Linked DNA regions of Homo sapiens: region 1 is linked to region 2. The links come from fine-mapping of genetic effects on gene expression. A gene starts in region 2. The other region holds a variant in brackets. All regions are shown on one strand. Distances are from middle to middle.

The links. PIP is the estimated chance that this variant, and not a neighbour inherited with it, causes the effect.
Region 1: its variant is the best candidate, but not a certain one, in a credible set for the expression of SAR1A in skeletal muscle (FUSION, PIP 0.74).

Annotation. Positions count from the first base shown.
Region 1 is chr10:70,216,898-70,219,921 of GRCh38, reverse strand. It overlaps PPA1 (inorganic pyrophosphatase 1), which reads left to right. Exons shown (of 11, transcript NM_021129.4): 3 at 1,105-1,158; 4 at 1,991-2,110. Among named protein-coding and RNA genes, the nearest start is that of PPA1, 15 kb to the left of the region's middle. The variant T/A (reference allele first, on the strand shown) is at 1,257.
Region 2 is chr10:70,169,265-70,171,764 of GRCh38, reverse strand. It overlaps SAR1A (secretion associated Ras related GTPase 1A), which reads left to right and starts at 1,251. Exons shown (of 7, transcript NM_020150.5): 1 at 1,251-1,352. RefSeq lists enhancers at 757-836, 970-1,626, 1,627-2,285 and a silencer at 967-1,326.

The DNA.
Region 1 (3,024 bases), 48 kb before region 2:
TAGAGGCTAAAAACTGAAAAACTGCAGTTAAAGTTCTATTCCGTGAAAAAAAATAGTATTCTGAATAATTAAAGCTCAAGTTTAATTAAATAACCTATGGCATATTTAACTCCAGTGTGCAAAATGGGTTGGCAAAGTATGGTTTGTTTTTTCATTGTGTTTTTAAACTGCACATCTGGGAATTTACTCCCTGAATATATCATCTATTTTATAGTAGTCAGTTTAAGGCTATAAGCCAATTACAGTAGAACTATCATTGATTAAAATATTTTTAAAGCATATTCTCTTATCTTCAAGGTCAAAGTCCTTTTCAGGGGGGCTTTATTTCTAAAAACAGCCGAATTGGGAGAATAATGTGGATAATGAAGCTGATGAGTTTTGTTTGATGCTAAAACTAAAGTATGACCAAGTAATTAGGCTGATGTGGGGTTCGTCTTATAAACTAAAGTATGATCAAGTAATTAGTCTGACTTGGGGTTTGTCTTATAAACTGTCTCTGAAATAGAAGCTCCAAAAACATTTTGAGTAATTGCAGTGTCTCTGAAGGAAATAACACTGGCCTTTGGAGAGTGTTTTGAAGATGGTCTTCTTCAGAGATACAGGTTCTGTTACGTTTATTTAAGAACTGTTTCCTTCCTAGGAACATTCTTTCCACTGTCAGCTTTTATTCTGAAACACTTAAAGCATACAGAAAAGTTAAAAGATTTATATAGTAAGTTGGCTGGGCAAGATGGCTCACACCTGTAATCCTAGCACTTTGGGAGGTGGAGGCAGGAGGATCACTTGAGGCCAGGAGTTTGAGACCAGCCTGGGCAACACAGTAAGACCTTGCCTCTATAAAAAATTTAGAAGTAAATAAAAATTAAGAAGAACTATACCGTAAGCAATCATATACTGACCACCTTGATTCTATAATGAATATTTTCCTATAATTGCATTATTTCTTCATCCATCATTCTCTTTTTTTGATGCATTTTGTTGAAAATCCAATTGACTTCAAAGATCTGATACAATGAACAGTTTGACTTTGGAAGAAATAGTGCATGCTCCCTCAGAGAACAAATTGGCTCCTGTGACCATCTCACTTTCTCTTTGTTTTTTCAGGATGTGTTTCACATGGTAGTTGAAGTACCACGCTGGTCTAATGCAAAAATGGAGGTAATATTTCACCTTACATTTGAGTCAGACTTAGGATATTGGTTTTGATCTAGTCACACTGACTTGATCAAGGATGAACCATCTGAACGTCAAGGTTT[T/A]TCTCTGTCTGGTCCCAGTCTATTTTCTAGTTGTATCTCCCATTGCCTACTAGTCTTCCCTTTGGGCTCCAGCTAAACTCAACTGTTTACAAATATGCCCCAAACTTTTCTTCCCAACATCTTTGCTTCCAATGTTCCCAAAGCCTAGAATTACTTTTTCTCCTCTTACTCTCTGTAAGCCCTTCACTGACCCCTCCTTAGTCACCCCAGCCACAGATACTCTCATTGGAATTTCAGTTGCATGGTGTTAGTTTCTTTCTGATGATACCTACCATCATTGCCTTTTTGTTATGGATATTTATAACATATTTTATATCACAAACTCTTAACAGTAATCACTTTTTTTGTGTAATAAATACCCAAGTATTTGAATAATTTTAAATTCTGTGAAGGAAAACTAAAATTGGATAATATTTATTTTGCCCTTTTAATAAAAATTGTGGTATTTTTATTACTCAAACATTAGAATTTATTCCAGCTAATTTTAGTCTTTGCTTTCTAGAATTAGTAAATGTTCTTTTTCCCTTCTTGATAGTTCCTTTATACCTCACATAACCTTTCACTTAATGGCCGATTATGGAAACACCTTAGTTCAATTATAAAAGTGTTAGGGATAAAATATATCATTAAAGTGGAATTAGGGAACATAGGTACCATAATTCATTTCCTCAGATCCTTATTTGAATAGTATTTCACATCCAAATATGCAAAGATTTGAAATTTTCTTATTTCAGATTGCTACAAAGGACCCTTTAAACCCTATTAAACAAGATGTGAAAAAAGGAAAACTTCGCTATGTTGCGAATTTGTTCCCGTATAAAGGATATATCTGGAACTATGGTGCCATCCCTCAGGTATGTCTTCATGCAACTGCTGACAATGTACTTTTTAGCTTACTAAATATTAATTTACTGCTATTAGTAAAAAAGGTTTGAATACCTGTGGAGAGTTTTTTCTATGGTAGATTTTGAAAACATAAGAAGGGATAATTAACTCAGAATGCTTCCTTAAATAACTTATTTTCAAGATAAACTAAATATTTACAATGTTTAAATTCAGATTTGAACGTTTATTCTTTCCTGAAATATTTCTTCTTTTTTGGACTGGTTATAAGCTATATAAATTCTCTACAGACTGAGTTGCAAGTCTGTTCAGTCAAGAAAGAGTGTATGGTAGTAGTCAAAAGCACTGATTTTTGGCACCAGACAGACCAGAGTTCAAATCCCAAGATGGCCAATTCCTAGCTTACCTAACTTGCCTCCCTTTCTTTCTCCTTGAGACGTCCATATCGCCTCCCTGAGCTATTCACAGTATGTAGGTGGTATGGTTATTTCAAAAAATAAAGCACTTAATACCTGCACACAACAAGCTGTCATAGCTGCTGACTTTATGTTTAGAGTTTTGATTCCCTCTTCTTCAGGTCAAGCTCTTTGTGGTAAAGTAATGAGAGGATCATGTTTTCTTAAGTAGTCAACCTTTTTTTTTTTTAATTAAAAAAATTTTTTTTTGAGATGGAGTCTTGCTTTGTCACCCGGGCTGGAGTGCAGTGGCGTGATCTCGGCTCACTGCAAAAGCTCCGTCTCCCAGGTTCACGCCATTCTCCTGCCTCAGCCTCCCAAGTAGCTGGGACTACAGGTGTCCACCACCTAATTTTTTGCAGTTTAGTGGAGACGGGGTTCACTGTGTTAGCCAGATGGTCTCGATCTCCTGACCTGTGATCCGCCTGCCTTGGCCTCCCAAAGTGCTGGGATTACAGGTGTGAGCCACC
Region 2 (2,500 bases):
CTAGTTTTGTTTGGTTTTCTATACGAATTTTAGGAACAAATAGGGTAATTAAAAAAAAAGAACGAAACCACACACGACCTATTAATCCTATTAGTACTTTTATTGGGATTATGTTAAATTTAAATTTTACTAAAGGAGAATTGAGATCTTCATGAACCCACAGACGTCATTCATCTTTCCATTAGACTGTTTTATTTGTAAAATGAGAGTAATAATAGTACCAATCTCGTGGGACTGTCCTGAGAATTAAATGAGAAAATGCATGCGAAATATACTGGGGTGAACACGTTGCTTTGCCACTTAGCTGTGTGAACTTGGGCATGGTAGGTTATTCTGAACATTGCTCTCTCATTTGTCAATAAGGATAATACTAGCATCTGGAGTCACAGGACTCCAATGACGGTGAAATTAGACAAAGCGTGCAAAGTACCCAGTGCTCTGCCTGGAACATAAGTGCACAATAAATATTAGCTGTTTTTCTGTTTTTCTAAAACATAGGCCACCCCAGGGCAAGGAAGTGCGACTCAAAGCAAAAGCAGCTGGGCGCGGTGGCTCACGCCTCTCATCCCAGCATTTTGGAAGGCCGAGGCCAGCGGATCACTTGAGGTCAGAAGTTCGAGACCAGCCTGGCCAACACGGTGAAACCTGTCTCTGTAAAAATACAAAAAAATTAGCCAGGTGTGGTGACATGCGCCTGTAGTTCCAGCTACTCGGGAGGCCGAGGTATGAGAATCGCTTGAATCCGGGAGGTGGAGGTTGCAGTGAGCCGAGATCGCGCCACTGCACTCCAGCCTGGGCGACAAAGTGAGACTCCGCCTCAAAAAAAAAAAAAAAAAAAAAAAAAGCAAGGAAGAAAAAAAGCAAAAGCTTGGAGGGATCCACCTCAAGTGGAGGGCCCCAAGGTCAACTCATCTTTCCCAGGACCTATGTCACCGTCGGTACCCACTTCTGACTTTCCTGGTGCGTCTGGAATGGGAAGCCGCGATCCCGAGTGTACCAGGCCGCTCAGGGACTCCAGGACCCAGCCCCGGACCCAGGGTTCCGGCGCTGCCACGTCTCGCGCGGTCAGCTAGCCAGACGGGAGCAGGCGGGGCCGAGGCGGGGCCAGACCCCGAGCGCGCTTTGTCACGCCTTATGCCCGCCCCTCCGCGGCCCGAGTCGCTGGTGGGACGGCACCGGGGCAGAGAGGCGTAACGCTGTGAGGGGGCGGGGCCCATTACGCGCCCGGAAGTCCCGGGGAGGGGTGTGACGTACATCCGGCGAGTAGCTGGCGGTCCCGGGTGCTGCTGGTTAGTGTGCTCTGAGGGAGGGTCCGAGCCAGCCGCTGTTTTGCCGGAGGAGCCCCTCAGGCCGTGAGTCTGAGGGTCGCGTCGGGGAGGGGAGTTGGGGCTCGAGGGGCTGGGACGGAAGGCGGGGAGGTCGGAGCGGAGGCTGGCCCTGGCGGGGTTGGGTGGGGGGGAAGTGACACGCAGGCGGTTCTGTGGGGCCGCGGGGCTGATTCTGGGCGGGGACGGGACAACTTGGCCAGATCTGCTCCGTCCCCTGCTGTCCTCTTTGCCTGGGGTCCACTTGCATTCCGCTCGGGGGTCTCGCAGCTGCTGGGCCGGATAACAGTTTCTTGTCTGTACCGTGCGCTCCGGTTTACGAAATGGCTCCATGTCCTCTGTCTCGGAAGAGCCTCACAGCCCTCGGTGAGGCGGGTGGGAGCCCTTTATGATTATCCTTGTTTTGTAGACTCGGAGACTGAGGCTGGCCAAGGCTCCGCAGTTAGCGAGTGTGAGCGCTCGAACCTGGTCTACAGGCCCCTAGTCCAGGGCTTACCCCCAAGTCAGCGCTTGGTTGTCTTCCGATGGCCCGGGTCGAACCCTGTATTTTCTCCTTCTCCCTTCCCCTTTTCCCCTGTCTGGTCTCTGCATGGAAAAATTTCCTTATGTGCATTTGACATGGATTAGCGTTTTCTTCACGATTCTAGCCAGTGGGTCAGGAGCATCTTTGTCTTGTTGATTCCATCGGCTTCGGTTGCGACAGGGGGCTTAGGGAGATTCGCCATGGGGCTGACCTTTGACATTTACCCCGCAGCTAAGCAGAGTTAGCTAAAAGCCAGCCGCCTACTACCCCAAATCTGCCTGGAATGGCGTCTTAAAGTTGCCCTGATTATGTATAACAAGTAATGCGTAAATTTTTAAATTGGCTAATGGTCAGATTGGTGCCCTCCTTTTCTATTAACATTTGTTTGAATCATTTAGCCCTGGAATTCGCAAGTTTTCATTTTAGGTACATTAATAGTGTTTTGTTGATAGTTTAGAGACCTACCTTAAATTTTAGATTACTCTTAACTTCTCGTAAGGTGGTACAATGGACCAAGAATAGAAAATAAATAGAATGCTAGTTATTAAAATACCATTCAAAAGATGTGATGAGTTGTAAGGAAGAGAACTTCGGAAGATCATCCTCTGTGTAGTTGGTGGGTTAAAGAAGTTTTAGTTTTTTTTTTTTTCCC